Homo sapiens: one gene and its partner. The protein of the gene in region 2 interacts with the protein of the main gene of each other region in a biochemical or structural test. Each region holds a gene or a part of one and is shown on either strand. Other genes may lie near its edges. The genes, in order: SRPX and PELO.

Evidence for each region.
Region 1: the proteins of PELO (region 2) and SRPX form a complex in vitro, tested with the Homo sapiens proteins (one study listed by BioGRID).

What each region holds. Positions count from the first base shown.
Region 1 is NC_000023.11:38,165,546-38,182,059, forward strand, and holds part of SRPX (sushi repeat-containing protein SRPX isoform 1 precursor), read right to left. Parts: intron 12,800-16,514; coding exon 12,740-12,799; intron 8,807-12,739; coding exon 8,615-8,806; intron 6,513-8,614; coding exon 6,336-6,512; intron 1-6,335. UniProt on the Homo sapiens protein: May be involved in phagocytosis during disk shedding, cell adhesion to cells other than the pigment epithelium or signal transduction.
Region 2 is NC_000005.10:52,785,146-52,801,659, reverse strand, and holds the start of PELO (protein pelota homolog), read right to left. Parts: upstream 13,745-16,514; 5' UTR 13,307-13,744; coding exon of another isoform or gene 13,246-13,306; intron 1,856-13,245; exon of another isoform or gene 1,776-1,855; 5' UTR 1,266-1,775; coding exon 540-1,265; intron 252-539; coding exon 1-251. Other genes in the region: ITGA1 (integrin alpha-1 precursor), read right to left, coding at 13,246-13,306. UniProt on the Homo sapiens protein: Component of the Pelota-HBS1L complex, a complex that recognizes stalled ribosomes and triggers the No-Go Decay (NGD) pathway.

The DNA of each region.
Region 1 (16,514 bases), on a different chromosome or scaffold from region 2:
AGGAGCCGCCCAACTCTCTCATTTTACAGATGTGCAAACTGAGGCTCAAAGAACTTAAATGATTTATTTAAGACCACACATGTAGATAATGGCACTGTGAATTACAATCTAAGTCGGAGCACTTGCCACTGGAACAAGCTCTCTCTCTTCCTGCTATCTATTATCAACATATTGCTTAATATCTTAAAATAGGCAATGGTCTGTCTGGGTCCACTCTCCCCTTGAACTGCTACTGAACTACACTTATGGTTTTATGTTCTGGGACAGCAGTTTTACTGTGGCTCTGGACCTCCAAAAGCCTCCCAAATTTCTTCAAGTAGTTTCTCTACCTGGTAATAGGAGTTCTGCCTCGATAGTGATAACAAGGATGGGTGGTTAATGAGGGCTCAAAGTAAATGAGATGTCAACTCTACACTGGGTTGTATTTCATCTTATAGCTGAAGTGAAATCACAAGAGGAAGTTCACATTTCTGCAAATTCTACTTAATATTTCTGAACAGGTAGAGAATGTATTTAAAGAAGGCATAGCAAATTAAGGACATTCAGCTTCATGTTACTTTACATATCAACTGATAAGTATTAAGTGCTATTACTGCCTTAATGAAAGTTAAATGTCCTTTTGATTCTGAATGACAGATGTCTTTGAGAGACTAAATGCACCAAGTAAAATTCTTTATATACTTTCTCCTGTGTCTTGTCTAATAATTTCTCATTTTATTCAGGGTAAGAAGTTACGAATAACTTATTAAACAATTTTGCCTTCAGCTATCCAAATTCATTTTCATTCTATGTCGTGCTTCAGTGGAGTGTGAACTTAACAGCCTTAATGCACCAATCCTAAATTGAATAACCACCATATTTTGTTGAATCTAAGTCACTCCTAATTGTGAAATGCATCCCTATTTCAGGGATATTAAAAGGTAGAAATAATACGCTTCTCAGAATTGATAAAATAAAGTATACAAATACTATGATGAAATGGAAGATGCTTTAAATGCATTCAAGATGTCTATACTCAGCTGTTACGTTTTTAAAAACATTTAATTTTTTACTATGATAGGTGATAGAAGACAAACTTTTATAATTCAGATGAACATTTCACAGAAAGACAAGTATATAATGACTGCCCCCTGCTGGTCAAATATAGCTGGCAATTACATTATAGAAAGTATATTTATTAGCATACAGATTTCAATGTAAAATTACATTGTGTTACCATATTTTCTTGGTGCAGCATGGTCAGAGTGAAAAGCAACTTAGTCTCTGTCAGGTAAACTAAATGTCTGGATGATACATTGTTGTTTGTTTTCTGTATCAAGATGTACTAACAGTGTAAGCACACAGGCTCCAAGATAGGTTATCTGGGTGAAGAGTCTCAGAGTTTCCCAAAGCCAGCTTATCTCTAGCTAACAATGATCAGCTGAACTGGCCTAGCTTTTCAGAAACAGTGCTCTTCCAAAGAAGAAACAAGAAGAAATAAATCATTACAAATAATAACTAATATTGGAGGACTCCTTCCTACATGCCCACCCCATGCTAAGTACCCTCCCTATATTATTTTACTGAATTTGCACAACCACCCATTAGACTAAGCAGTGTTATTAGCATCCTCATTTATAGACTGGGAAGAAGCATTTCCTCTCTTTTGGAATTTCTTTGTGGTCTGGGATTTTTAAATGCCATTACATATTTTAAAGCTATTTTAATAAACCAAACCCTTTTGTGTATCTGCCTGCTGCTGACCTAGTGTTTTCCGCCAACCTTTGCACACATACTGTTTTGTGATGGTCTGTCATAGCTTCCCCATGAACCCTTGAAGAGCCTCTGCAGGACTTGATCCTGACACATCCTCAAGCAGCTGCCTTCTCTCTCGGCTGGTGAGACAAGCTGGTCTGCCCTTCAGCTGATGCTCCAGAGACCTAAGCCTGTTATTACCCAGACTTGGCCCCGATAGCATTTTATAAGTTATACATTTCCATGAATGAAAGGAACAAAGTTACTATAGAAACATAATTACTATCCCCTGTTGAATTAGGATGCCTGCAATTATATAAAAATCTTGAAACCTTCAGTGAAAATTCTGGCCTTTGCTCTCTGCCACATTCATTGGAGACATCTGACAAACTGTCTCCCTTCTCTGTGCTCTAGTTATCTCTGTGCATATAAAATATGAGATACAAATATATTGCATTGTATCAACTACTATTTATCTAAGAAGCTGAACTTTTTTTTCGAGACAGGCTCTCACTCTGTCACCCAGGCTGGAGTGCAGTGGCACAATATCGGCTCACTGCAGCCTTGACTTCCCAGACTCATGTGATCCTCCCACCTCAGCCTCCCAAGTAGCTGGGACTACAGGCATGCACCACCATGCCTAGCTGATTTTATTTATTCATTTATTTATTTATTTTTGTAGAGACAGGATTTTGCCATGTTGCCCAGGCTGGTCTCGAACTCCTGGGCTCAAGAAATCTGCCTGTCTTAGCCTCCCAAAGTGCTGGGATTACAGGTGTGAGCCACCAGCACCCAGCTGAAGCTGAACTATTTACTTGGAAATCCTTGACACATCTAACCCGGTAGGTAGTGGAAATAAGGAAGAAGCTCAAAAGGACAAAGTCTTGCCCAACAGATAACAATAAAATGCAAGGGAAGTGACCCTGTGCCAGTTCCAGACCTAGGCCCTCAAAGAATCTGGTGCCTTCTGCTTTCACTATGTTAAAAGCCAGCTGCCATCTAAAGAAGTCCAATTGACTGGAGAGGCCATGTAATCAGGATGAGAAATTATAAATGAGAGAGAGAGAGAGAAAGAGACTCAGCCAGACCCCAGTCAGTACAACTTTTCCCAACTGAGGTACCAGACCTGTGAGTGAAGCCATCTTGAATCCTCCAGCTCCACTTGGTCACCTCAACCATTACCACATACAGCAGAGATGAGCTGTCCCCACAGAGCTCTGCCCAACTTTCCAACCCATAGAATCTTTGAGCAATAACATAGTTGTTTGGAGCCACTAAGTTTTGTGTGGTCTATTGTGCAGCAACAGATCACTGATGCAAATATAAAATAGTTTGAGTTTGGTGATAGAGAAAGGAAGAGTTCTTTTCAAGGGGGCATAGGAAGTGAGTGACTGCCAAATGCAGAACAAACCTGGCCATTGAAAACTCATCCAGTTGTTTGCTTCCCCCAGCCAGAGCGTAATCTCTGTGGATGGCTCTGGGAAGTGGTTTCCTCTGTTTGGCACCATACAAAAATCCAGAGAACTTTCCAAAACAGACAAAAGAGGCAAGAAGGGAGGCAATGAAATCCACATTTAAAAGTCATGATCATAGCCGGGTGTGGTGGCTCATGCCTGTAGCCCCAGCTACTCAGGAGGCTGATGTGGGAGGATCACTTAAGCCTGGGAGTTCAAGACCAGCCTGGACGACATAGCAAGAGGCCAGCCTGGGCAACATAATGAGACCTCATCTCTAAAAGTCAACATCTTCACAAGAAAGAAGCCCAAATAAAAATTCATTGGTGATACATTTATATTAGAGAGAGCCACTAAAAGTTGACCTGTTCTGTTTGTACTAACAAATCATGTAAGGGAAAAAGTGAATCAGTATCTCAGTCAATCAAGTTGTTTTAACTGAAACTAGCCTCTGAAAGTTTGCAAAAGAATGTGTATTTGTCAACCCAGGAAGAATTTAGCACAATTTAACATCATTTGCAACAATGCATGGATACATTCATTCTTAGCCCTACTGATGTTTGCATCAACTGAATAATGCAATGCAGCCCAGCAATAATGCAATGATCCCATTCCTATGGGTCATTGGGTAAACCAGCTGTGAGACAGCTGGGACACAAGAAACGTATGCCATCAATTTCCATATATTACATCTCCAAAATGTTTTATTCCAGAATTTCATTTGTGTTAATAAATCTCCACCTATTCTACTCTGTAGAAAACAAAAAATAAGTGAGCAAAAAATAAAATATATTTATTTAAAAATATTTTTTCCTTGATAGATAATTAGAACTTAAATGTGTTGTCTGGTCACTTTATTACAATCCGTTCCACAGGGCAAAAAGGAAAGTTTGTACATTGTCTTTTGTTAAAGTAATTAAATGGATACTCTCTGAATGTCAAAAGACCTTTGCTGGTTTTTCATTGTCCGTGGTTTTTAAAGTATCTTTAATTTGTTTTCTTCCTGTTTTGGCCTAGGAAGAAGTGTTGGTCTAAAGGAGAGATCATGTGTCTACTCAAAATCTGGTCTTTACATGAGGACTTGTTGTGATTCCAACTGTTCATTGTTCTATCTAAATGCCAACATAACCAAAAATAACTAAAAATGGAAAGAAAGAAAAATATCCCCCGAAAACAATAGTGGTTACATTCTAAGGTTTATTTTCTTCCAGATCAATGGAGGTTGTGGCTCTTCAAAGACTTTTTACCCTCCTGCAATTTGCAGTATTTTTTTTCCTCCTACATTGACTTATTTTTATCTATATCTGTTTCTGAAATAACTATGAATTTCAGCTCATTGCCAGAGTATGGTCTGTGTAAGAGAATTAATTTTAACTTGTGGCACCTTCAAATTAGCCAGACCACAGAACTGACCACCTCAGAGTCCAAAGTAAGCCCAGTCTTCTCTCTTCCCTCACAGTCTAGAAGAGAACTGGGACAACTTTCTCACCACTCAGTACAGCTCTGGCCAAGACTGTTGAAGGTTGTGTGGAAATCTGGGAACTACTTAGCCACTATGTGTCACCTCCTAAAATAGGTTGAAGTTCTGAGTTACGCTCAAGGACCCCCTACCCCTGTCAACACAAAAACAAATTTATTAAACTATTTTAATACATTTAAAGCCAAAAAAGTAAATAATACCCCTGGAGTAAAATTCACTGGGGACAAACCTCAGCTTGTCTGTCGCGAAAATCAAAGAAAGAATTGCCTGCTTGCTTTGCCCATTTCTCTCTTTTTTCCTGGGAGCTCTAGGCTCTCTTGTGGATCGCTGTACCCCTTTTTGTCATCCCTAACTAATTGCATGTACAATCCTCCTTCTCCCAAATATGCCTGAACCTTGTTCTGACAAACTGTAATATGAATCTCCTGAATTTGGGGTTCATTCTCTCTTCCTCTGGGAAGGTTCCAGGCGCATCTGGTCCAGCTTAAGACATGCTGTTGGTTTTTGAGAACAATCAGCATTTTCTTTCCATTGTTGCACACAATCTGGAAATTTAAACAGTATGATCCCTAGAGTACTCTGCCAAAGCTTGCTTAGCAGAAAGATTTTTGAGCTTCTCTCCTCCCACCATCACCTCTGCCCCTTCCAATATGAGGGAGTAGATTCAATTTTCTTTTTGGTTTGTTTTGAAGAGCTATGCACATAGCTAATCACAGGGAGGATATTGAAAGCAACATCTGTGAGGTGCCCCCTGTGGGCAGTGTTACTGGCACTTAGTGAATAAAATCCAAGGATGCTGCTAAACATCCTGCAAACAAAAAAAACAGGGCTCCACAACAAAGAATTATTTGGCCCCAAATGTCCATCATGCTGAGGTTCAGAAACTTTGCCCTAAAGCATCGTTTAGCAGAATCCTAGGACCCACCGCAGACCTGCTGAATTTAAATCTGCATTTTTCCCAAGGTCCCTAGAGGACTTCGCTGCACAGTAAAGTTTGAGAAGCAGTGCCTTAGATCAGTAGCTCTCTATTTGAGTGCCTCACAATCCCTGGAATGCTCATTAAAAAACAAAATGCTGTGCCTGACCCCTAAAGTTTCTGACTCAGCAGGTGGTGGGGGTGGGTTGGTAAAAATTTGCATTCTTAGACCAGGAGATGCTACTGCTGCTTCTGCTCCCAGGACCACACCATGGGAACCACTCACTGCCCAACAAACCCAGAGTAAGGCAAAATATCCAAATCCCTTCCAGCTGAACAAATTGAGTGCTTGCTGACCACCAGAGTCAATGACAAAGAAGCTACATTGGGGCTGAAAGACACATAGATGTTCTCTACTGGACTGTCCCTATAGTGTCAATAACTTTGCTCAGGCCCCCGAACTAAAATCAGCAGGAGTATGCCACATCTCTGCCAGCCTGTAGTTGCCTCAATAGCAAACCAAGAAAAAGACAAAAGTCAGATGGAAGCCATCAGCTACGAAGTCAGCTCCAGGATAGACACTGAGGTTAGATCTAGGGCTGAGCCAGAGAACCAGTGATGCTACTGAGAGCAAAGTTGCATGCTTAGGCCTTACAGGAGGAATAGTGATGCTCCCTTTACAATCCACGATGTGAACACCCCCTGCTCCTCCCAAAGCAAGTGCCTCCTAAGGGCTGTGGCATTTTCTTACCCACACAGGAGGCTGGCCGGCCGCTCCAGGCCTTGTTGTCCATACATGTGACGGTCCGCTCCCCTTTCAACGTGTATCCTGGTGAACAATAATACTCACACCGGGAGTTAAAGTAGGCACCATCTACACACTTAAACCCTCCATTTGCTGGCATGGCAAGGGTAGGACATCGCTTTTCTGAAAATGAGAAAATCAGATATTCAGCATTTCTTAGTTTTTGTCTATAGAGTTTCATTTCAGAGTCTAGAAACTCTGAAAGCATGAGGTGAAAAGTTAATTTAAATATAAGAAGGCCAGGCGCAGTGGCTCACTCCTGTAATCCCAGCACTTTGGGAGGTCGAGGCAGGTGGATCACCTGACTTCGGGAGTTCGAGACCAGCCTGACCAACATGGAGAAACCCCATCTCTACTAAAAGTACAAAATTAGCCAGGCGTGGTGGCGCATGCCTGTAATCCCAGCTACTCGGGAGGCTACGGCAGGAGGATCGCTTGAACCCAGGAGGCAGAGGTTGCGGCGAGCTGAGATTGCGCCATTGCGCTCCAGCCTGGGCAACAAGAACACGACTTTGTATAAATAAATAAAACAAATGGAATTTAAGAAACAATGGATGGTTTTATGTCACACAGAAGACACAAAGTTTCCTGTCACACTGGCTTGGGTTGGCAACCCAGCTAAGCCACTATCTTAGGTTGAGCTCCCCAGAAGCAGATTCTGAGATACGGATTTATGTGCATGAGGTTTAGTAAGAAAGTGCTCCCAGGGAGACTAGTGAGGGGGTGAGGAAAGCAGAACAGGGAAGGGGAGAAATCCAGGCAAGATGAGATCTCAGGCAAAGTCAGCAGCAGCCTGATCCCATAGGGAAGCTCTGGAGTGTGAATGACAGCTCATTCTGTCCTGCCCCCAGGCAAGGAAGCTGGGCTTTCATAATTCTTTATCAGTCAGTCATTGGGCAGCTACAGGCTGCTCACAGGAGATGCTTTCTCTTGTGAAAAGAGAACGAGAGTGAGAGAGTGAGAGAGAGAGAGAGCGAGTGGGATCAGTCCTCTGAAGGAGCAGTCTTCTGAATAAGGTTGAAGTTCCAAGTCTTTAAGAGCAAAGTACTCAGAAGCTGGGTACTGGATACATACAACTAGTAAAAGGCATCGAGGAGATCTGGGTAGAGCAGATTGTCCACTACAGTCACCCAGTTGCAGAGTCTGCATAGTCTCGATGACATGGCTGCAGCCTTGAAACCTCAGTTTCCCTGACAATGAAGTTAACATAATGGCACCCATATTGATAGTGTTACTGTAAAAATCAAATGTATGTGAAATTCTTGGCAAACCATAAGCGCTCAAAAAGTGGTGGCTGTTTTGAATACCAAAGACATCTAAAATGTGCTTCAACAATGCTGTACCACTTGCAATTTTCCAAATGAGGTATGACTTGTCATGAAGCTAAAAGCCAGCCCCTGAAATGCTGCTCCTCTAAGCTTCTCCCTTGAGGCACACTCACTTTCATAAATAAGCATCACTTCTTCTGTGACTCTTTCCTGCCTCCCTAAGCCCCACTCCTTGGGAGAACACTTTTTTTTTCTTTTTTTTTAAGAGATGGAGTCTTGCTCTGTCACCCAGGTTGGAGTGCAGTGGCACAATCTCGGCTCACTACAACCTCCGCCTCCCGGGTTCTAGCAATTCTCCTGCCTCAGCCTCCTGAGTAGCTGGGATTACAGATGCACGCTGCCACACCCAGCTAATTTTTTGTATTTTAGTAGAGATGGGGTTTCACCGTGTTGCTCAGGCTGGTGTCGAACTCCTGAGCTCAGGCAACCCACCCGCCTCGGCCTCCCAAAGTGCTGGGATTACAGGCATGAGCCACTGCGCCCAGCCAGGAGAACTCTTCTTTAATCTGCTACCATATGTCCCTGACTTTGTACCCTTCTTGTACTTATCTCCCAGTTGACACCTCTGCCTTACTAAAGCCTCTTCATGGCAGGACCCATGTGCGTCTTATTTGTTTCTAAATCCCCAACACCTCTTCAGGATCCAGCACTAACTGAACAAATGTAACTCATTTTCTGAACAATGATCTTCTCTCCCCTTTTCTCAAACAGCTGATCATATCATTCTCTCTGAGAGGAGCCAACTCACTTCCACCATATCTTAGAATCCCCCTGGTGTCCCCCTGATCATAAGGAGAATTTTTCTCATCAATATTCAGTGAAAATCCTCAATCTCAGAGCAAAAGAACTTTGGCTCTGGTCATCCCTGAGGACCCAACACAGAGCTGGCCTACTCACGTTTGCAGATGACCTTGTCAGACCATCGTTTGTTTGACTGGCAGATCAGTAGGGAAGAGCCATGCAGCTCGTAGCCCTTCTGGCAGCGAATGTCGCACCTGGTTCCCAGGGCTGTTTTGTAGTATCCTCCTTGAGGGGCCCTGCAGTACACATCCCCATACTTCACCTTGATGGGGGAGCACCACGGGGTATCTACAAGTAGCAGAAACAAAAGAGGAGATAAATATGAAATGACACTTTCAGAAAATGTGTCCCCTTACTCTTACTGTCCCAGGCTGGCTACATTCCAAATTTTGGACCTTCAATTAGTGCCCCATGTTTTCTTAGGTGTCTCCGGGTAGGGAGGTTATGATCATGGGACTAAGTGTCAGATATATCTGAACATGAATCTGAGTTCCTCTATAACTGACTGTGTGATCTTAGACAAGTTAGCTAACCTCTCTGAGTCAATATCTATACTTATGCCATAGTGCTGTTACAAGGACGAAATAAAAATTGCATATCAAGCATCTAGCACAGTACCTAGCATATATGTTCAATAAATGCTTGTTCTTTTTAGTATTTCCCTTAACTAGATACATAAGATTTTTTATTTTTATTTTTTAGATAATTCTTTCAAGGGCAACTGATGTCATACATAGCGGTAGGGATTCAATAATTGGTTAATTTGGATTTCGTCTGAGCCGTATGCACATTCTCTCTAAAATGTTGTAATACTGGCATTAATCTAAATGATGCTACAATTTCCAGGTGTTTGTAACAAGATATAAATTTCGCTTAAAGTCACAGAACAATTGCTCTCCATAGAGAAGTGTCCCCAGTTATGCCCCATTTACGTAACAGGGTGACACCCTCCCCAGATGGCAAAGTTGCAGGTGTTTTGATTTTGGTCTCATAGTTGCCCAAAGCACAGCTGGGATGAAATGAATAAATCAGAACCTCCCTGCTGTGCTTTTGAAATGTTCTCTTTGAGATCCATAAAATATAAGGGCAACACTAGCTCCTTGGTGGATAAGTTCCTACAGCAGCCACTGCCCCATTGTCCCACAATTGATGGGGAACAGTGAGGAGTTCCCTAAAGCCTGCCGGGCTCTCAATGCCATGAATAGGAGCCACTTCCCTGCAACTGCCTGGCTCATCACTCCAACCCAGCACCTGAGCTGTCAGTGAGTGAGGTAAGACCGCCATCATGTGGCCAGGAAGGAGGACAGACCCTGTTTTACTTTCCCAGGAATTCTCTTCTGAGGATATGCCTCCAACTGCTTCTCAGTTACAAAAACCAACAGTTCTGGCCACGTCTTATGCATAGACCACTGTTTTAGTTTTGCCTTCACATTTCCTTCAGCTAATACTTTCTCTTTTTTTTTTCTTTTTTAGAAACAGGGTCTCACTCTGTCACCCAGGCTGGAGTGTAGTGGCATGATCATTGCTCACTGCAGTCTCGGCCTCCTAGGCTCAAGTGATCCTCCTGTCTCAGCTTCCCAAGTAGCTGGAACTACAGGCACGCACCACCGTCCCTGGTCTGGCTAATACTTTCGTCATATCATGTTTTGCAGACAGCTGCAAGTGAGCCCTAAACTCAAGACTCAAGTAATCTTCCCTGGACTTTCTAGGTAAAGGTGATGTCCTAAAGGCTTAACCTAGAGCTGATTAAATTTAACCATGTGGATATAAACGTGTAGGAGCTCACACAAGGCCTAAAGAACTTCCTTGAATAAATTTTCCTTCCTCTAAGGGTTTTAATATAATCTGTATGTACTACATATATTTGTGATATACAGTACTCCCCCTTTGCCCACGGGGGATATTGGATGCCTGAAGCCTTGGATAGTACCTAACGCTATATATACTGTTTGTTTCTTACACAAACATACCTATGATGAAGTTTAATTTATAAATTAGGCATGATAAAAGATTAACAACAACTAATAATAATATAGAACAATTATAACAATATACTGTAATGAAAGTTAGGTGAATGTACTGTCTCTCTCTCAAAATATCTAATATTTTGGGGCTGCGGTTGACTGAAGGTAAATGGAACCTTGGAAAGTGAAACCGCAGATAAGGGGGAACTAATGTATGTATATATATGACCTGCATACTCATACATCACAAACTCACTCAATTAATATGAATATATGATGGTATTCCAAGCAAAAGAATCAAAAGCCATGCTTGCCACATACCAGGAGCACCGTAAATGTTGGTTACATTTAATTTTCTTTCTTATTTTACTTTAATTCAAAAACACTTACTCTGTGCTGGACATTGTGCAGGGGCCTCAGGATCTAAAACTAAACCCTCACTTAATAATGGCTTGTCTCTAGCTTTTAAAATTAAAAAAACTTGGCCAGGTGCAGTGGCTCACGCCTGTAATCCCAGCACTTTGGGAGGCCAAGGTGGGTGGATCACCTGAGGTTAGGAGTTCGAGACCAGCCTGGCCAACATAGTGAAACCCCTGTCTGTACTAAAAATGCAACATTAGCTGGGTGTGGTGGCGTGTGCCTGTAGTCCCAGCTACCTGGGAGGCTAAGATAGGAGAATCGCTTGAACCTGGGAGGCGGATGTTACAGTGAGCCAAGATCACGCCACTGCACTACAGCCTGGGTGACAGGGTGAGACTCCATCTCAAAAAATAATAATAAAAATAAATAAAACTTAAATTTTATTGTATGAAGCGCACAACATGATGCTTTGATATACTTATACATACTGAAATGATTGCTACCAGTAAGCAATTTAACTGACAATAGAAACAATGCCCTAAGAAAATTTATTCTTAAACATTCAGGGTAAGTTCTAGGGCAAGCACACATTTTGGCCATCTGGTCTACCTGTCACATTTGCAATGCTGTGAGGTGAAGATGGATGTGAAGAACAAGGACCTGAGGGCACTAGGCAACCCCTGCTGTAGATGTGAAGGGTCATCTGTGCATGCATGTGTTTTAGGAAGATTTTTCAACAAGGGACTCAAAGAAAAAAAAATCTAAACCCATAAATAGTTAAGAAGTTTTGCGAATTAGAACCTTTCCTTACCCCAAGCATCTGATTAACGTATTTGTGCTTTGCTTGATTGGTTAATTCCTGAGGCTATGGAGATAGAAACTATAGGTAGGAATGAGTATTTGCATTCAGATCTCACAAAAAAATGTGGTATGTGATGGGAAGCACACCTGCACATAAGCACCAGGCACCAGTCATTATATTGGAAATATTGTTCACTTGTGTAGAAAACAACTGAAGGACATCTCCAGTCAAAAGTTGTCCAGTCCTACCCTGATTCTCCTGTATCTGAGACACATCACAACAAACAAGGGCCATGTCCTCATCCCAGGAATTAGGACAAATTTCCAGGGCAAAATGCCGCAGTGAAACTTTGTTAACCATTTTTTTTTTTTTTTCAAATTCTTCCTCCACTGTAAGAGGAACTAGATTCAGAGAGAAAGCATCTCTAAATTTACCTTCATTTCTCCCAGGTTTCCCTAAGCTTCAGAGAAATGTTTCACCAGTAGAAATATTTGTGGACATACTTACCTGAGTCTGGACAGAAGGTTCTTGTTTAGGCTTTTTATACGTGCTGGGGAGTGGATTGCTGGGAATATGTAGAGATGGAGTTCTTTATCATTAAGTTTCATTTGAGCAACATACTTTAACATACCGTTTCAGAAGCCATGCTGGGCTCAGAAAGAGCACGATGAAATGAGCTTATGAAAATCAAGTTTTCTCCTTCCCCATTCATCTTAGTACATTATCAGCACTTGGTCCAGATTTGACCTTAGGTGGTTTACTCTGGATGATTCTGGCTGTAATGTATGAATTAGGCTTGATTTTCACTTTCATCAGCTACAGCTGCCTTTGCAGAAGTGAGGACAGTAAAGAAACTTATGAGAATAAAATGACCATTGGGATGCTGAAAGACAGCATTTCAGAGATTTCCAATGCATTTTGCTTTATTTCCTTTTTTAAAAAAGGGAGTATATATATATATTTTTTTTTCCTTGATAGATAATTAGAACTTAAATGTGTTGTCTGGTCACTTTATTACAATCTGTTTCACAAGGCAAAAAGGAAAGTTCTCCTGGCACCAGCAGGTCCTCATTAGCACATAAGCAAAGCATTCACCTTTATATCTAGGGTGTGAATACCCGACTTCATCGTCTTCTAGTGGTGAGTCTCCCGATCCTACAATAAAAAAGAACAGAAACTGCAGCAAGAAAAGCCACATAGTATGGACGCATATTTCAAAGCATTCCTTTGCCACAGACCATGCAGGAGGTGCTATTAGAATGCAGAGCCAAGAGCAAAAGCTTCTGTGGCCATTCATGAAGGAACAAACAGGAGATCTCTCAGAGTGAAACCGGCTGAGCTGAGATTGCCAAAAACCAAGCAAAATGAGCCTCAAACTGTTTTGGAATCACCATATGCCAAGTGAAATTCTGGAATAGGGAAACAGAGAGAGTCAACTTCACTCTGAGAAGATGCCAATGTATATGAATCTCATGCCAGGGGAGATGCAATAAAATGTGTGCATCAGACACAGTCCACAGTTTCCCCAGCAGTCAAAGAAAACCCAGTAGAACTGGGTGTTTATGGTACCTGAAAACAGGTCCATCTTGTGAAATAAATTTAAATGCAAGATAAGGAGGTAAATCAAATGTCTTATCTTGACAAAAGAAACACAAAGTTGCTTCTATATACAGCATTTGTAGGAAATGAAGGCTGAAATAGACTATCTGTGTGCTTATTTAGAACCTCTCATGAACGTATGGCTCAAGTAAAATTTCTTTTTTTTTTTTTTTTTTTGAGACGGAGTCTCACTCTGTTGCTAGGCTGGAGTGCAATGGTGTGATTTTGGCTCACCGCAACCTCCGCCTCTTGGGTTCAAGGGATTCTCCTGCCTCGGCCTCCTGAATAGCTGGAATTACAGGCATGTGCCACCATGCCTGGCTAATTTTGTATTTTTAGTAGAGACGGGATTTCTCCATGTTGGTCAGGCTGGTCGCGAACTCCCGACCTCAGATGATCTGCCCGCCTCGGCCTCACAAAGTGCTGGGATTACAGGCGTGAGCCACCGTGCCCAGCCAGTAAAATTTCTTAATGAGCGTTGCTACCAATAAAAACCACGGCCTCAGAGAGAACGTCTGTGTATTATTTTAATTTAACTCATTTGCAAGCTGGAGCTGAATGGTTTTTAAAATATTAAATATTGAATTCCAGTGAGCAGTAAATCCTTAATCCTTGAAGTGGTAGCAGATGCCAAACTTCAAAACTGTAATCTTAAATTCAGAGAACTTCCCTCCAGACTTCACAGTCTAATTAATGACTCGAGTTAGCTCTGTCTTGGTCACGCATTTAGTTGTAGTTACTTGCCACCATAACAGACAAGAACATCCTCCACTGTGAGGTTATTCAAATCCCCATGCAGCTAATGAGTAATGGTCCCTGTTCCACTTGTGTTCTGGATGAGAGATGTAGAGTGTGGAAACTGAAAGTGGAGAGGAGATGAGGGCTGGACTGTGTTCATTAGGAAAAGACCCGCAACTACAGAAGCCCAATTCTGTATTTTCCTTTGCTGCAGATTTCCTCACCTTGTCTCTGCACACCCAGATGTGTACAAAATTACAAACTATTCATCATTGCATATAAAAAAATGAGCACTGGAACCAGACACAGTGGCTCATGCCTGTAATCTCAGAAACTAGGGAGGCTGAGTGGGAGAATTACTTGAGCCCAGGAGTTCAAAAAACAGCCTGGATAACATAGTGAGAACCCATCTCAAAAACAAAACAAAACAAAAAACAATGAAAACCAGGAAACCTACCTAACAACATGAATCAAAGGCCTATGCTCAAACCCTTTGATCAAGTCATTCCACTTCTAGGAATCTACCCAAGGAAACAGTTGAACTGCATGTCTGCATGTGAACCTTCAATCATCCAAATTAAAAAAAAATCCAGATACATGAGCAGCAAGCTTTCTCCCCCCGCCCAGCCCTCCAACACACATATACACACATACATATATTTTGCCCTCGGTTGTCATCCTGGTTAACTTGTCTACAGTATTTACAGCATTTAGTATGAATGACTACCCATTCATTTCATGAAGCTCTCTTCTGCAGTGGCTTCCAAATGACAACAGTTTCCCGATTTTCTTCCTCCTTTCTAAACAGACTCTCTGGACAGCACATCTAGATCAGCCTGCCATTTGGACATAAGTATTTCCCAGGAGTCCAGTATTGGTCCTTTACATATCTCCAGACTATTTTCCTGGGCCATCTCACTCCCATACTTGCCTCAAACCATTCCCCATGTACTGATGATAAATCCATTGTTTCTAGCCTTGAACTGTCTCCTAAGAGCCAAGCTAGAATCTTCAACTGTTGTCTGGATATCTCCACACTCACACTCAACCTGCTCAAAACCAGATTCCTTTTCTTATCACCAAATTTGTGCATCCCCCAGTGTTTCCCATTTCAGCAAATAACCATCTTCCAGCTACTCTGCCACATGGAAAATCTCAGCCTTTTTTTCTTCTATCTTCTTCATCTACCACATTCTAAGATAGGAATTAACTTAAATATCCAACTACAAGAAATGGTCAATCATATTATGATCCATTCATAACATAATAATGTTCATTTTGAAGAGGTTTCTTAACATGGGAAAATATTATAGAATGCTGAATGAATAAAGAAAGAAGCATAACCCCCAAAATGCAAAAATGCATTAAGATTTTAAAATATGGCAAAGCTCATGTGTGAGAACAACAATATGGATGAATAAAACTAAAATAATATTGTGAGCAAAGTTGGTCCCAGAAGACTATATACTATATATACGACTCCTTTTTTATAAAGTTCAAAAACTTCTAACACTAAATTGTTGGGAAATACAAAGATATGTACGGTAATTTTTAACAAAGCAAGGAGACCTCTTACCCTTTCCTAATCTTCTCTTCTTGAACAACTGAGTTCTAAGGCCTTTAGAGCAAGGCAGACATCTGTACCAGAAAGGACAGGGAGGCATGGTAGGCCAGAGCAGGATGTCAGAGCCCAAACAGGGCATAGAGGGAAAACAGGGGCAAAGAGAGAATGCACATGGGCAGATAGCCCAGCAGGGGAATCACAGATTAGTAAGATAAGGAGGGCTTTCACATGGGTAAGGCGGAAGAAAGCCTGGCATTGGGTTGAAAAGTACAGTTTCTAGATTCCCTTATCCCTAGGTTGTGAAAGGGTCTACTTTTAGTGATTTGGAAGGAATCAAAGGGAAGGAACTCTTTTCTACAGTTGTGCATGCAGAAAATAGGCTACAGCAGATGTGAGTGTTGTCAACTGTGTCCACTGTCCCCTCATCAGCTTTGTGTGGTAGGGAGGATAGTGACGTTGGCAGTGGTGATAATCACGGCAGCAACAGTTTCCTAGCCTGAGTGATAGGAGGAGTTTCTGGCATCTGGACTGAAGTCATGGTGCCATTTGACCTTTAATGCAGACTTCTTGACTTCCATTGCTCCAGCCCTTCCAATTTTGTGAGTACCTTATTTCCTGCATTAAATCATTTTTTGCATAAAATACCTAGAGAGGATTCTGTTTCCTATATTAAACCTAACAGATATTTAAGCAAACCAATTAAGAAATGAATATATGGTTTTATAGCTTTCTCTTAGTAACTGGACACTACCCTAACACAGGGCACACTGCTTTCTACCCACAAGTCTTTTGTAGATAAGAGAGGGGACTTTTATGTGAACATAGATGAGTAAGGAGGAAAAAAGAAAAAAAAAACCTACTGGAGTCAAACTTACTCTTTTTCCGAATTGGTCTATCTGCTAAGCTAAATGCAATCTGATTTCTGTGCAATTGAATTCACATGGGAAAGGAAATAACACACACTAAGTG
Region 2 (16,514 bases):
CGTGTGGCTACATCCTGATGCCTGAAGAGCTCATCGCTGATGAGCAATGTGTCAATTGCCATGGCTTCATTGGCCTTCTCCACCTGCTTGAGTCCATAGAAAGCTCGATCCGGTTCATGCTGTAACATTTTATAGAAGTCATCCAAGGCTTTGACTTCCCCAGCAGCTTTAGTGTCTGAAAGGCGGCTAGCCACAGTAGGGTCACAAAGGGCCTCTTTCAGGGAGTACTTGTGTCCGGAGGAGGCATGTACCTAGAATCACAATTACAAAAGTTAGGCAAAATAATCTCCTAGAACACCCATTAATCAGCTCACAAAGGCTTAAAGCCAAAAGCGCTAGTAAGGCTTCATATGTTTCAGCGAAGTTTACTCCATAAATTTGCTAGACATTTAACATTCTCTTTTTATTTCATTATCTCATGAAAATCCCAGCTAAGTAAAGACTTTCTCTTCTTATTTTTCCCAGTTCTAAAACTTTAGGAGTAGTTTATACCAATCCCTCTGCCCATTCTTAATTATCCCTGGGTAAGATTGTTTTACCTGAAGAAATTTGGACCGGTTTTCCAGGAGCAGTTTGTTGTCGGTCTTCACTGCTTGTTGAAACAGGTAGTCGCAGAACTGCTCCCTCACAAATCCTGGGCTGGCCACCAGGATGCACTTTACAACATCAAAGTGTATGTGGCGCTGGATAGCCTGGACCACCTGTTCATAGAACCGCTCCAAGGCCCGGTCATGCTGAGAGCAATTGCCTTTCCTTTTCCTAGGGATGTTCACCTCCACCTTGGCCCGAGTGAGGGTCATGCTGGGAGTGACTAAGCAGATATGGGCGAGGCCTTCCTGCATGACCACAGCCGCCACATCAGCGCTCCAGGCTGGGTCACAGGCCTGCTCGATGCGCTCCAGTACCACACTATCCCACTGCTTCTTGGCCAGGGTGAACTGGCGGTTGGGCTCCAGCTCGATGGTGTGGTAAGCCCCCATCTTGACATACTCATTCTCTTGGATGTTGGTCCCCTTAACCCGCAGCTGGCAGGCTTGAGAGTCGAAGTCGATGGCCTCCACGCAGAGAGTGAGGGTAGTGCGGACCCGGTTGCTGCCCACGCTGCCCGTGGAGGACTCTGTCTGTACCTTGCGGATGGTGGAGGCGCGCAGGCTGTCGCCCACCTGCACGAGGTTGTAAGTGTGCCACATGTCCTCAGGCTCCTCGGGGACCAGGGTCACCTGGCCCGCATTGTCCTTCTCGATGTTCTTCCTCACGAGCTTCATGGCCAAGGAAGGGGCTCACTGACAGAACCAAAGGAACCAAGGAGGTCCTCACCTCCGCCCCGGGAGAGGGGATGGGAATGCAGGCCAGGAAGGGGGCGGGGCCCGGTTTCTAAGGGCACTTGCCTGGCGGGAAGGAAACACGCTTGCTTCGACTCATGCAGCCTAGGGCAGCACTTCCTCTATCCTTTCCTCTCTCAGTCTCCCGGCGCGCTGCGTCTAACAGGCTCGGGGAACACTGCAGCGAAAATCTACCCCTACACAGTTCCCGCTGGCAGCACGCAACAGCGGGCTGACGAAATGAAGGCGCATGCGCAGCCCCCGTCCCGCGACCCGACGCACGTCTCCCGTCCCCAAAGGAGAGGCGGGGCCGCAGTTCGCGCGTGCGCAGGCGCACTAAGCTGTGAGGCGCTCCGGACGAATGAACTCCCTCAAGAAGGTGCACAGAGTGGTGGCGAGTCCTTTATTTTAATGCCAAACTTCAACTTCCTAAGTTTTCTCTTCCATCCCTGTCTGTGAAGAATCCGGGGAGTGTGTGAGTGCAAATACTAGTTTTACCTGCCTGCGGCTGCCACTGCAACGCTTCCCTCTGGGTAAATCCAATTTCAAAGCTTAGCAGTAAAAGTAGCTCTCAGAAGTGCAGATTTGGCCCCAACGGCCCAAACTATGCTCGTTTTTGCTCTTGCCTTATCCGCACTCGGACGCTACAAGCCTGTTGGAGCTGGTATTTAGAAGCGGTTTCTGAGAACTACTGGTCACGTTCTGTCTGGGCTCCCAGCAACGTGTCCAGCTGTTTTCTGCGCCTAGTTACCGTGTCTGCACGATCTGATTCACCCAGATGTTAAAGCGCTGGTCCCAAGAGAGAAGAAACTATGTGTGGAATTTACCCCTGGGTGGACCTCTCAGTTGCTTGACCTGATGTCCTGGGAATCCTAGGCTCCAAAGTTGGCAGCCTCAGCTTTCCGCAGCCCAGTAGCCTGTGAAATGTTTAGGTTGGGGGTTGGGTCGCAAGAGCTTAGGGCCAGATCTTCACTGCCAAAGCTAAGCTAAAAGCCGAGGCTATGGGAAGTGGGGAAAAACTATTAACTAGGACTGACCCTGATTGAATAGCTACATAATTTAAAGAAAATCCTTAAGTTACTTAGCATTCTTTATTAGGAAGTGGAAATGGAGAAGTGGGATTGCCTCTTTAAGAGACCGATGAATAGAAAAAACAAAAGAATCTAAAAGTTTCTTGAGAGCTTAGATGGAGTGGAGGGCAGAGAAGTCCTGCACACATAGCTTCTCACTGTCTTTTCTGTCTTTCTCTGTGTGGATTGGAAAGGGGAACTAACCAGCCTGAACAGATGAAACAGGGATGAAAGGAAGGAATCTGAGTTTGGCATAGGCGTGTGGAAGGAAAATAAATCTCGGATCCCCAAACTCATTAAGCCAAAGGGAAAAGTTAAGCTGGGAACTGGGTCACGCAAAACTGCCTTGCCTCTTGGTTTTTAAATGAGATGGCTACCAGATGAAAAGCTACACACCTCGCTCATATTTTGCCCACAAGGAAATTCTCAGTGAGCGCCAAGATCTTTACCATAAAGTGTTTCTATGAAAATTTACCATGGCAATGTAAATAGATAGCTTCTGTTTTCAGGTACAGTCACCCCTCTGCCCTCCTGACACAAATGCATATCTGATTGTTCCCCTGCCCCATTTGTCTATGTTATCTTACGTAAAAATGCAGATTCAGATTGACTAAGCCAGACAGAGGCATGAATGACTATTTTCCCCCTGCTACCCTCTCACATGAAAACTGTATTTCTCAGTATCCCACCCTTTCCCCTTTAAATTTGGAGCCCTCAAAATCATCTTCCCAGAAAGGCATAGACCTGTCTTCCCCGCGCACGTCCTTAATTTTGGCAAATAAACGTCCTAAAATGATTGAGACTTGTCTCAACATTTTTCTCAACTGACAGGCTTCACAATTTAAACTTAAGTGTCATTATCTTCCTAAGAGATTATCAGGGGACGGAAAGGTCCCCTCCAAGGGGAAAGTCCAAATAAGAACCACTACTTATTAATATTTGTGGCCTCTTTTCTCTTTGTTTCTCGCTCTCTATGTCTCCCCTTACTTCCTCCTTCTTCCCACCTTCCTATCATACTGAGTACCCTCAAGAAGTTCCTAATTCACATTGCCTTCTTCCAATTCCAGGAGAACCCAGCAACTTTTCACTAAGCAAAGAACTAATCACACTCAAGTGTGAAGGTGATTTGCCTATCCAAAGGACACTGTATTTTAAAAAAAGTATCTTGTTAACTTAAAATTCCTAATTGGTAGGGTGAAAGTGTGCTTGTGTGTGTATTTGTGAGAGAGAAAGAGAGAGAGAATGAGGAGATAATTTTGAACTGGGGCTTTGAAGTGCTCCTTGATCATCTTTCTAAGTACAATTTATCTTTCCCATAGTCTGCCAAAGATTAAAAGCCACAGAATCACAGTGGTAAGCACACAGTGGGATCTTAACAAAAGGTTTTTATTGAAGAGCTATCACGTATTGAATGTTTATCAAGTTCTTTCCTATGCTCTAATTCTCCCCTGTAAGGTAAATATTTGTTATCCTAATTTTATAGAAGAAAATCAACTATGGGGAAGTTAAGAAATGTTTTCAAGATCACATGACTAGCATTGAAATTCAGGCCTGCATAACTCCATACCCTCTCTTTCTACTACCACCATCCTATATTATGAATGTTTGTAATCATCTCCTTCACTGCAAATTATGTGCTATTATCCACTGTCACTTCCCCTCAACTGTCACCTTTACCAGCTAAACAAAAACTCACAGCTTGGGAACCAACCTAGAGGATTTGAAAGGCACTAGTCCCTTTCCTGCTCTTTTATCACCTCTTAAAATTATTATACTTTTCTCTTCTACATAGTTTTTTTTTTTCCTTCTGTCCAGCCTAGGTCATCATCATACTCTTAGAGAAAGATCTAATGTTCTACTTTAGAAAAATATACATATATTTATCTGTACATTAGAAACCTGTGAAAAACCCTTATTGACTCTTAAATCCATGGTTAAAAAAATTTTTTTTTAAGTTATGAGGCAAACCACTTTGGGCCATTTTAAAAAATATCAGTGTGCCTCCATAATTCAGTATACTATAAAATCTTTCATAGAATTACTGTTGTATGTGAAACAACTGCAATAGTTGGGAACTTTTTTTTTTCCTTAGTAATTTAAGCCTGTAGTTGACTATTAGATGTTTTCACCCAGATTTTGTTTATGGCTTAGTATTTCTAGACCAATCATTATATTTTTATTTTGATTCATTTTGGATTCCCATTCCCTATGAATTAACGTCTACAATCCCAATTTGCACTGGCCTTACAAATTTACTTCCCACTTTTCCCCTCAGGGCACCCTATATTCCACCTTGAAAGTAACCTTTGTTCCCTACATATGCTAGGAACTTTCTCGTTTGCTACCTTAACTCATACTAACTTCTCTGTTTAAAATGTCACTTCCTTTCATCCCTGCTTCCTTTAGTGCTGCCTATCTTTAAAGTCCAGCTTAAATGTTATCTCAAACTTGAAACCATGTAAACTTGAATCCATGTTAATTTAAACATGTATCTTTTTTGTTGAACTCTGGAAGGATTTATCTTTATACTCCTTTGTCCTTTTAAAGGTCCTTTGCACATAGTAGGCACTCATATATTAATGATAAGCTAGGTGAGTCAAATGTAAAGTATGGCAGCTATTTTAACATTATTACAGACATTTCAAGACATTTCTTAAGGCACTTACTTATATTGTTATTGACTGTATTTCACTTAATAATGGTAGTTCAGAAACTGCTGTAGTTATATATTTATTTTCATTTTTTTCCAAATGAGCAAAGTATTGAGAAAAATACCAGGGCTTTTAGCTCTTTTGCTTTAAATACTAATTTTATACTTATGTATTGGCTGTTTAAAATAGAAAACTTTATATCAGTAACTTTATATCAGTATAAATCTTTATATCAGTAACTTTAATTATATCTATTTTCCCTACAATGTCTTATTTATATTAATCTCTCCAGAAGGGGAAAAAAGTATTGTTACCTCCAAAAGTTTTTAATTTGTTGCTCTTGAGACACTTCCAGTGTCTCAAGAAGAGAACTGGGCTAGAAGTCAAGCATCCTGGATTGTAGCTCTTACTCTTCAATTGTTTTTACTGTAACTTTTGGCAGTACTCAGTCTCTCTGGAACCCAATTTATTTCACTGAAGAATTGAGGGAATTGAATTCAATAATTAAATTTCTAACTAAAAATTATGCTGCAGTAATATTTTTTAAGTGTTTAAACAACACCTATAATCTCATCCTAACATATTTGTTTTCAATTTTGCGTGCTATCTTTCAAATCTGATTTTTCTAAGACCCATTTCAGAGGTGAAAGACTGATTCAAAGTTTCTTGTTTGTGGACCAAGAATTGGCAGACCTCAAATATGGTCTTTCCTGGATGGATTCTACCAACTTGAAATAAGTCCCAGACCGCAATAAAGCTAATTATTTTTCATTCTAAATGATAAATAAGATTATTTGTCCTGCTCTCTCATTTGACCATCCTTATGAGGTCCTAGTGATATTATGATACTTGATATTAATAAATTATAGAGCTCTAAAAATGCCTGGCTTGAAGCTAGAAAACTGGATCAGACAAAACAAGGGACAAGAGCTCATTTTAACATGATCATAATTATTCAGCCTTGGAAAAATAACTGGTTTGGTAGAGTTGACTGATGGATAATCTTTGGGGTACATTTATTTATGTTATTTATGTTATTCAGCTCTACTGAATAAAATGGTTCATGGACCTCATTGGTGAGTTGAATTACTATCTTTCCTATTATAATAATATAAAAGAAATGGTTTGTATGACATGAAATGGAATTATGGGCTCCTGAAAGATGGAAATCTTGTTTTAATACCCTCTGCTTAGCTTGTGACCCTTAAACAGTCGGGGCTGTATAAATTTTCTTGTTTTCATCTTGTATTTTATTTTGGAAGGCTTACTTTCCTGCAACACAAACCTAATCTTTTTGTTATTCCTTATAAAGCACCTTGGGAGCCTCTCCCACCATTGTGTCTTTCCATGTCTACTACCTCTTCCACCAGTAAAGGCAGAGACTTACTACCTTTTATTTGTCTTTGTTCTCCTGGAACACAGCATAACAAGTGGCACATACTCATATTTTTAGTATGCAAAAATTAATGGTTATTAATTTTTCTTTAATTCAGAGTTTTTAACTTGTCTGTAACTGACATTCTAAAATTAGGAAATCACATTCTGTTTTATAATGTTACTAAAAACTTAAAAAGAAGGTTACTCTTAAGGTAAGTTTGTATAAGCCTATTTCAATATTTGAGATAGCCGTGCTTAGGTAAGAAAATGGTAATTTAAAATACATCTTCCCCAGGAAAAGTTCTTAAAATATTTTAGAATAACACATAATGGCAATTAGTTTTATTATACATGGTTTGGAAAGTGAACTTTACAAAATAAGAAGCCAGAGCTCCAATTATGAATATCTAGTGATAAACGCAATTGTTTATTTAGAGAGAATGTGCAAACCTCAGATTGTGCAAAGGTTCCCATGTGACCTCCACCAGCAAAGCTAAGTGGATGACTGGGAGGATTAGTTAGCTAATATAGACAAAAGGGTAAAAGGGAAAGTGGTTTTTTTTGTTTGTTTTATTTGTTTTTTTTTTTAAGGAACTTGTACTCACTCACTATCTAAATTTCTCATGATGGAAAGTGCTTACTTGCAGTTGTCACAAAATAATACAAAACCTCCTACCAAATAAACAAAATCCTATGAACAGAAGTGTGTGTGTGTGTGTGTGTGTGTGTGTGTGTGTGTATTTCTATTTGCATGTATTCTTATACGGCATAAGATCATTTCACCAAAAATATTATAAGTAAAATGTGTTACACAGATATTTTTAAGGATTGGCCAGTACCCATGTATTTCTAGACTTTAGTATTTGGTAAAATAAAAGTCTAATTAATAAAATAATTTTGAAAGTACATTTAATTTGTAGTAAGGATATATGATTTGTAACAAAATATATAAACCATCTTAACTATTGATGTTTTAAAGTGACTTAGGTGCTATATTTAAATTTAAGAATTTGCATTTATTTTAGGAGATCTCATATAATTCATACAAAAAGAGTATGTGTATCCACTCCTTTGCATATTTGAATTACAATGATTTCTCATTTCAGATCTCTTACTTATCTTGTTAATAGGGATCTCCTGTTTGGATAAAATTGATTTTTTTTAACACATAAAGTGAATTCCTAACACCAACCAGCATATGCATTTTAATTTCCTTTTAAAACTTAGTTGACTTTTTTATCTTCCTTTTAAATCATAGGAAAGTTTTGATTAAAATTAGTCTTCTTCCTATATACACAACCCTGGAGCTTACCACCAACATGACAAAAAGTTAAGAGTTTGCCAAAGCTAGAGTCATTAATCCTGTGCAACTGGAACATTATATGATTACTTTATTGTCACCTTTCTCCTGAAGCTCTCTTCTAAAGATAGAGCATTTGGAGGGAGCTCTGTTTTTGGGATCTGGTGAGGCTGTTGGTGCCAGAGGAGCAATTATCCCCTAAATCAGATATAAACTTGGCACTTGAAGAGAACTGAGAGGAACAATGTTATATCTCTGTATCTAGATGGGGTTCACATACTAGCCTCTTCAAAATCTTATGACACAATTTTTAAGTGTCCAAACAAATAGAAAAGTACCATGGTAAAAAGTACCATACACTGTATATTATTGATTGTAATTTTCAGACGCACATTTTCCCAATTTTGACATCTCTGAAACTAGGAACTATCTAACAATCTAGCAATTATAATTGGATTGGGAGTGGCTTGTCTTTTTTAGTGGTACATAAAATAATGGTGCATCTTTCAACTGATGGTGTCTTCCATTCCATTATTTATAAATTTGGATAGACAGAAATATTTCAGGCAGAGGTATAATAAAATAAGGCAGAGGTATATAATAAAGGGACAATCTGATCCCTTAAGTATTTTCTGAGTTTGTCAATAGTCAATTCTTTTGCGATTCATTCAATTAAAAAGTGCCTATTATTTCTAGGTGTTATGGTTAAAGATCCTACCCTCACAGAGCATACAGCAAGCTGGAAAGACAGGCAATTAGATAGTTAATTATAATACCGTGGTGCATTATATAATAGAAGCAAAGGTGCTGGGATACACATGTCCTAAGGTAGGGTCCAATCTACTTCAGGGTATCTCTTGGAAATGACGTTTATTCAGGGATTGAGATCAGTAGCAGTGGGAGTAACTACTTATGCAAAGTCCCCAAGGAGACTTTAGAGTAGCTGGCATAATAAAGGAGCTGAAAGAAGCTCAATAATCTTGAAGATAGAAATATATGCAGTCATTTGCATCTCTTGATACTCTACTGTACTTGCTTTGAGGGCGAATACAATTCTCCAGTCACAGACTGCTCTGAATAGGCAATCTATTCTGACTTTAGCACTGTGGCAACAGTTTCAAAATATCTTTCATCTCAGTTTCTTAACATGAATTTGAGTACACTATTTTGTATTTCACACAACAGAAGAGAAGTGTAGGTAAAGAATAGCATTTTAGTCCCCAACTTTTCTAAATATATTTTAAACATGAGCTACTTTATTCTACTAAAATATGTTAAGATGTGGAAATTCAGCAAGTTCTAAATCTAGTGGGAAGTTTATTGGGTTGGAAGTGGAGGAACATGTTAGAGGAGCATCTATCTACTGAAGTCAGAACATCAGTGATAAGCTGTGGCCCAAGAGCTCATGCTTCAAAATAGCTGGGTAAGTGTTATGACAGGAGGGAAGAGAAATAGTTAAACTAGTATAGCATATATATGTGTCTCATGGTTACTCTCATTGCCTGTTTACTAAACAAACAAAAATCCCGTGAATTCATTGCTGCCTTTACAAACATCACAATGAGTAAGACAATTTTCACCATCTTCAGCAATTCCTGACAATACATTGTCTGCCATTGGGAGTCATTCTTTGTTTTGAATAAGTGGCTGACTTCCTCCCCATATTCAGCCATCTCCCATCTCCTCACTGGATTTCATTTTGAATAGGAAATCTTGCCTGTGAAAAGAAGACCCTTGCTTCTAGGCCAACCAAAATGTTTCTAGGGAAGAGAGACATATAGTTTAATTAGGGCTAATTCTATATTTATATTCTTAATAACGAGAAATAGTAGTCTTACTTGAGTTACACTTAATGCTGTACACCTAAAAATCATGGAAATAAAAGATTGACTTGTATCATTAATTAGGTCTTTATCCAAGTATTTTAGACAACTATGTTTGGATTTCACATTTAGAGGAGTGAGCAAGAGAGAATGAACTTATCTTTAGGCAGCCAATATAGCATATTATTTTAGAGCATTTAATTTGAGGTCAGAGATATGAATTGAGTAGATTTGTCATTAGTTCTTCAACTTTGGACAAATGAAATTAACTTCTTAATACTATATTTTGATTTCCTCATCTCTAAAATATTGATAATAGTTATAAAGTTTTAATTTTTTCTTTTCTTTTTTTCAAGGCTAATCAACAAGCTGAGGGAGTGAAAAAAGAACAAAGAAATCTGTGACTGCTTGTGATCAATTAGTAAACTTAATTTTTTAGATTAAAATGAAATAATACATGCAAAGCCCTTGGCACAGTGCCTTGCACATAATACATTTCGGGGTTAAGTTGTGCTAGCTATTCTGTTATTGATTGTCTTGCCCTTTGTTCTCTGGAAGGTTGGATCTTGCCATTTGGGGATGGCCAATGGGAAGGCTGAGCAAGACATCAGAGGGTGGGAGGAAAGGAGGTATATTTATTTTCCTTACTCCTTCTCTGCTGGGCTTCAATTTTGTCACTAGCTGCATTCCTTTTTATGACCACAACTCCAGTCTAATGGCCACCCTCCCATAACTAGAGTTCATAATCAAACTAACACTGCCACCTCCTCAGGCCTAGGAATGGTCATGGTTTTTCTTCTCACCTTGCTTCAGGTTCTTTTTTCCCTACTGTTGCTTGCGCTAGATGCTCCACCCTCTTTTCTTGTTCCTTTAAGGCCTCTCTAAACTGTCACTTTATGAAACTGTCTTCAGTTAAATCCTTTATATGTGACATCAGTTTATGCTGAGACTTTGACATACATAAAATAACAATCCTTTGGACATAAGGACATCTTTTTGATGAATCATTTTAGTAAACGTTGTAAGGAGCTAATATAAGACAGTCTAAATCAAATAGGAAGTTTATTGGGATGCTGGTGGCTTGTTGTTCTGATGTAAACCCAGTTTGGAAGGCTGTAGAGAGTTTATTTAGATGTCAGAGGGTGGTAGGATGGAAAGGTGGAATTCTTTTCTCGATGTATAAAACAAGGTCATATCTTCAGTGGCAAAATGAACATGAGGATTATGGAGAAAGTAAAGAAAAGTGATTGGCTATAATGGACAGTTTATGCTTATGGGTTGTGGTAGGCAGAATAATGGTCTCCCAAAGATATCCATGACCTAATGCCTGGAACCTGTGAATATGTTATCTTAGATGGTAAAAGGGACTTGGAAGATGTAATTAAATTAAAGATCTTGAGATGAGGAGATTATTCTGGTAGGCACATTGTAATTACAAGGATCCTTAGGAAGGTAGTAGGGTCAGAGTCTGAGAAGGAGATGTGATGATAAAGCAGAGTCATGGGGGAAGATCTGAAGATTCTACCCTGCTCGGTTGAAGATGGAGAAAGGGGCCACAGGCCAAGAATGCAGGTGGTGGCCAGAGGCTGGTGAAAACAGGGAAACTGATTTTCCCCTAGAACCTCCAGAAGAAATGCAGCCCTGGTGACATCTTGATTCTAGCCCAGTGATACTTCTGACCTACAGAACTGTACAATAGTAAATTTATGTTGTTTTAAGCTGGTGATCTATGGCAAGTTGTTACAACAGCAATAAGAAACTGACATAGGAGTAGTAGGAGATAGAGAGAGGGTGTTGGATTAGGGCAGTCAGTTGAGAATTTTGGATTTTATCTTAAAGGCAACAAAGAACCACCAAAGATTTTTGACTAAAAACAGATATAGTAAAAATGATGTATTAGGAGGGTAGACTGGAAGTTGGGTTCAAATTGAAGACAGAAAGATAAGCTCTACAGTAGTGTGCATGGATAAGTATGGTGATGAGTCCCCAGGTTACAAACGGACTCTGAATTGATGAGAAGTTTCCAAATCTGAAAGAGATTGCTAAAGAAGAGCCTACAGAATATAATGACTGATGGGAAAGCAGTCCAATTTCAGATCCCTCATGTGTTGCGAAATGGGCATAAATATAGTGCACACAAGGTTTCTAAATATTTTAAGTCTCTTCCTGGATTCACCAATGTATATTTCACCAACATATATATGAAATTGTAACTTGTTAAACTTCTCTGTTACTTCAAGTTTCACTCTTGTCTTTTTAGAGGATACGCAAACCTCATTTCATCATTTCTACTCTAGAGACTGCTTATTTGGTAGAATGAAAAAGTACAACTTGGATAGTAAACTACTGTATTCAGATTTTGCACAAAAACAACAAAATACAATCTAAAAAAATTTGAGTTGGAGAAGAATCATAGGTCAAATATGTGTAAAAAGTAGTGGCAGTAGCTGGTAAGTTAAACCACTCACCGGCTATAATGCTGTTCAGCAGTTACCACTGTTTGGATTATTGGACATTTCCTGAGTAGTGGGAAATGTTTGGATGAAAAGCCAGTAGCTAATTATTAACTCTCTTTACATTACCTCCCTTCTGAAAAAAGCTCTGCTTGCTGATAATCAACTTCTAAATCATCTTCATAAAACTTAACAATGCTTGGCCATCTAAGGCAGGTCTAAACTAGCTGGCTCTACCCTGTTTTTAGTGGTAAAAATGCTAAATTAACTAGTACTAATAACCATGCCAGCAGTAAAAACACTGAACAATTGAATATCAATGATATGTTAAAGCCAGCTGTTAATTAACCCATTAATAAGGTGATTTTCTTTCACACAGAGATTCTATCGATACACTTTCCCCCCACCTTCTTCCATTTTTCACCATTTCAACTTTCCCCCACCCCAATCAGTAACTGGTAAAAAAGATCTGACCATGAGTTCATTATTGGGAAAATCTTACAAAATGCTATATTTCAAGCTTTTTCTAAATTGGATACAACTTTGCATTTCCACTATGTTTTTAAGTCCCCTCCTTAAAAATACACATTTATGTACAAATAACAATACTATATTTTGCATCTTAAAAGTAGACTGCCCTGTGATATTTACAGAGAAAATGTTCACCATTCCTTTCTACGTTTCAAAATATCCCTCCTCTTGGGTGCTGACATAGAAACATCATTTTGGAACAAGTGGCAGTTTCGTCTTGCATCCCTGCCTTTTCTTGTTCTGCATGGGAAAAAAGCCTAAATAGTAGACAGCAAGAAAATTCAATAATGTCCACTCTGGAACAACCCGAGGGTAGGAATTTTGCATATGTATCAGGCGCCCTATAAGCATCACCCTCCCATCCCATGCCATAAAAAAGGGTGGAGGGGAGGAAATATTCAGCAAAGTCCTAATATACAATGTGTATTGTAAAAACAACTTTAATTTTAAAAGTGAATTCTACCTTCTAAGGTTTTCAGTGCTGCCTCACTCCTACTCCTAGGGTGAAGGACTTTGGAGAGACACGAAAACTAATTCATATCAAAACCAGAACGCGAAACTCCTGCCTGCCCCGTAGCCTGGCCTGAGTACCTGGAATGCCCGAAAGTGGATGGGCGCTCTCTCTTCCTATCTGGCCCATGGCTCTGAGGACCTCCCTCCCCGCTCCAAGCCCCAAGCCCGCGAGCAGGAGATGCTCAGAGAAAAGCGAGTCGCTCACCAGTGAGGAGCCAGCAGCAGGCGACAGCGACCCCTGGGCGGGCGCGGGGCCGAGGGGCCATGGCCGGAGCAGCCTCAGCGCCAGGGGGCCGCGCTGGTTCGCAGGGCAGGACCGGGCGCGGGAGCTGCGCTCTCTGGCTGGGCCACTTATCCCGCTGCCGCGGTTCCCAGTCCTCTGCCCCAGTGGCAGCGGCGCCCAGGAGCGGGAGAGGAGTGATTTCCTGTGTTTTCGTCGAATTCCTCTAAATGCGCTCCACGCTTTTCACATCCCAGACGGATTGCCACATCGCCCGCCCCTTCGCGCTCTTGGTCTCTGAAATCTCACTGGCAGCTTCCCAGGCTCTGTCCGAGACATGGACAAATAAAGCCAGCTTCGCGGGTCCGTGTTTAGGCTAAAGTCCACGGGCTGTAGAAGCAAACCTTAAAGGGACATCTGCCTTTCATTGAGAGGGTGATCTCGTTCTCCGGGCCAAATCCCCTAAGGTGGTAGGAAGGCGGGTAAGGGCTGGACCTTCGGGAGGGTGTTGCCAGCCCAGTGGCTCCGCCTTCACACCCCTTACTTCTCCCGGCCCGGGCAGGGAGGGCGCTTTGACAGTGCCTGGGCGCCCTTAACGGGAGGCAGCTTTCCCGGGTCCATTGCGCAGAGGGATTAGGCCGTCTGTGAAAATGCGAGGATCTGGAATCCCCCCTTCCATCCCCTGCGGACACTTGAAATTCACCGTGAAGTCGTTTTGCACGAAAGGGGGCGTCCCCACCACCCCGACAGGCTCCACTGAGGGCTTTGCTTTCGCTTATGGGGGGGTGGGGGGGTTGCTTCGTTTATGGTAATTCGTGGTTAAAGGGTGGTTGCAGATAAGCTTTTCTTTGAGATAACTAGGATAAGGGGAGAAAAGGAGAAGCAAGACGGAGGAAAAACAGTAAGAGGGAGAGCGAGAAGGGAAGAGAGGAAGAAAAGCAGCCTCCTTGGAAATGGAATGTGTGTGGGCTATTTTGTTTAAGTGAATTAGGATGTTTGTACGCTGGTAATTGAATCTAATAAAGAACTCGGGGCACTACTTTATTTTTTTCTTGCTTGAAACTTTCACGAGTGAAAATGCATTAAGAGTCCAGAAGTGCTTAGGAACTTGCAATGCTTCCCTTTCCTGGTGAGTTGAACAACCTCTCTGAGTCAAAAGCCATATTCACCCTAGCTTCAACCAATGCTGGCTATTTTCAAAATAGCTGTGTCTTAGCGGTTTTGAGAATTTCAAAGACAGAAAGAATAAGTGGATTTGTGTTTAGAGGAATCTGAGGGAAACAGTTCAATTCAATTCTTCAACTCAACAACTAATTGAGCATCTCTAGCAGAACTAGGGCTAGGCAGGACAAGAGTGCCACCCAAAGGAGGGTTCGTTGAGCAGAACGCAACACAGGTAGCACAGAACAGGTAACACGAGGGACAGGAAGGAAGAAGCCCACAGGGTTCACTGGATACATTGCCAGATAGAGGATCACAGCAACTAAAAGCTGGAGAAGACAAAAGTTGAAGAAGTTTAAGGAGCGTCAAAAATGGGGTGGGCAGACCCAAGGAGGTTGAAGGCCATCAGATCTCAGTATGTTGACCCATTAATCAAGAAATTCCTTTTCTATTATGTATCTGAACTGATTCACTATTTAGTAAATACATTAAAAATCTCGTTCTCCCGTTTTTAGTTTTTATAATGTCATTTCTCAGTTCTGTCTTCAAATTTACACAAATGAGTCTCTAGAAAAATTGTATTATGTTGGGTCACAGTTCAATCCCATTGGACTTTACTTAAGTTCCTTTGTTTGTGTTCAATGCTCTCATACCCTGCCAAGGAATTCATTTCCTGTGTATATCTCGTTTCCCTGTTGGTAGTATCAGTTATGTCTTATGCCTCTCAGTATGACTCTCTGTGCTTTGAACAGTAACCAATAGATATTGATTAATTCGTAGACATTTAAAAATCATAGTAAGTACTTTCCCAATGATATTTCTCCAAATTGCTTAGTTTTCAAAAACATATAATAGTGTGTCTATATATACACAATCATGTGTATGTATGTATGTGTACATATATATGTACAGCATATACATACATATGCAAATACATATATGGCATTTTAGCAAATTGCAATATATTTCATTAGAAAAAACAAAAAGAAATTGTAAAATATTGAAATAAAGTAGGGTTAACATATAATATGTTCAAGTTTACAATTACTGGGAAATTTACCTTTCTTCTGGGGGCTAATATATAATTTCAATTTTAATATTTTTATTTCCTCTAGGACTTACAAATTATTGGTGATAACCATCACTAACAGTGATATTGTTACAATTAATTTTCACAAGTTACAAATTTTATGTTTACATGTTTACATATTTATGAATCTTTTATATGTCTAGTCAATACAAATGTAGAGACTGAGAGATAACTATGGTTAGAGAATTAATTTTAGAATCAGTGCTTATTTTCTGAACTTCAATAAACCCAAATACAAATAAATGTCAAGCCGGTTATTTTCTTAACCAATTTTATTCTGACTGACAGAAAGACATGTCATTGAGTAAAGATTTAGAGAAGACAGAAACTTGCCCAGAGTCACAAACTAGTTATTGATATGAGACACTTGATGACAAATGTTTCAGCTCTAGACTTTATACTACATACTTTTCTATTTTAAATGAGACTTGATTTGATCAGATCTCTTTAAGGGTTTGGAAGCATGAGTAGGAGCATGAACCTTATTGTGAACTGCACACGCTTCTTATGAGAATCTAATGCCTGATGATCTGTCACTGTCTCCCATCATCCCCAGATGAAAACGTCTAGTTGCAGGAAAACAGGCTGAGGGCTCCCACTGATTCTACATTATGGTGAGTTTTATAATTACTTCATTATATATTATAACATAATTATAATGGGAATAAAGTGCACAATGAATGTAATGTGTTTGAATCATCTTGAAACCGTTTCCCCTACCCCTGGTCTGTGGAAAAAATGCCTTCTATGAAACCGGTCTCTCTGCCAAAACGGTTGGGGATGGCTGCACTGAAAGATTAGAGACTGAACTGATTAAGAATTTGGAAAGTGGATGTCTATGAAATGAGGCAAGAGTAATTGAGATTATTAACCAATAATCTCAAAAAGAAAAACATATACTTAAAACCAAAGTATTCTTCTTGGAGTTAATCTAATATACTGAGTAAAGTAACTAGAGTAAGTAAGGTTCTGGAGTTACGCTGCTTGGACTCAAGTCCTGGAA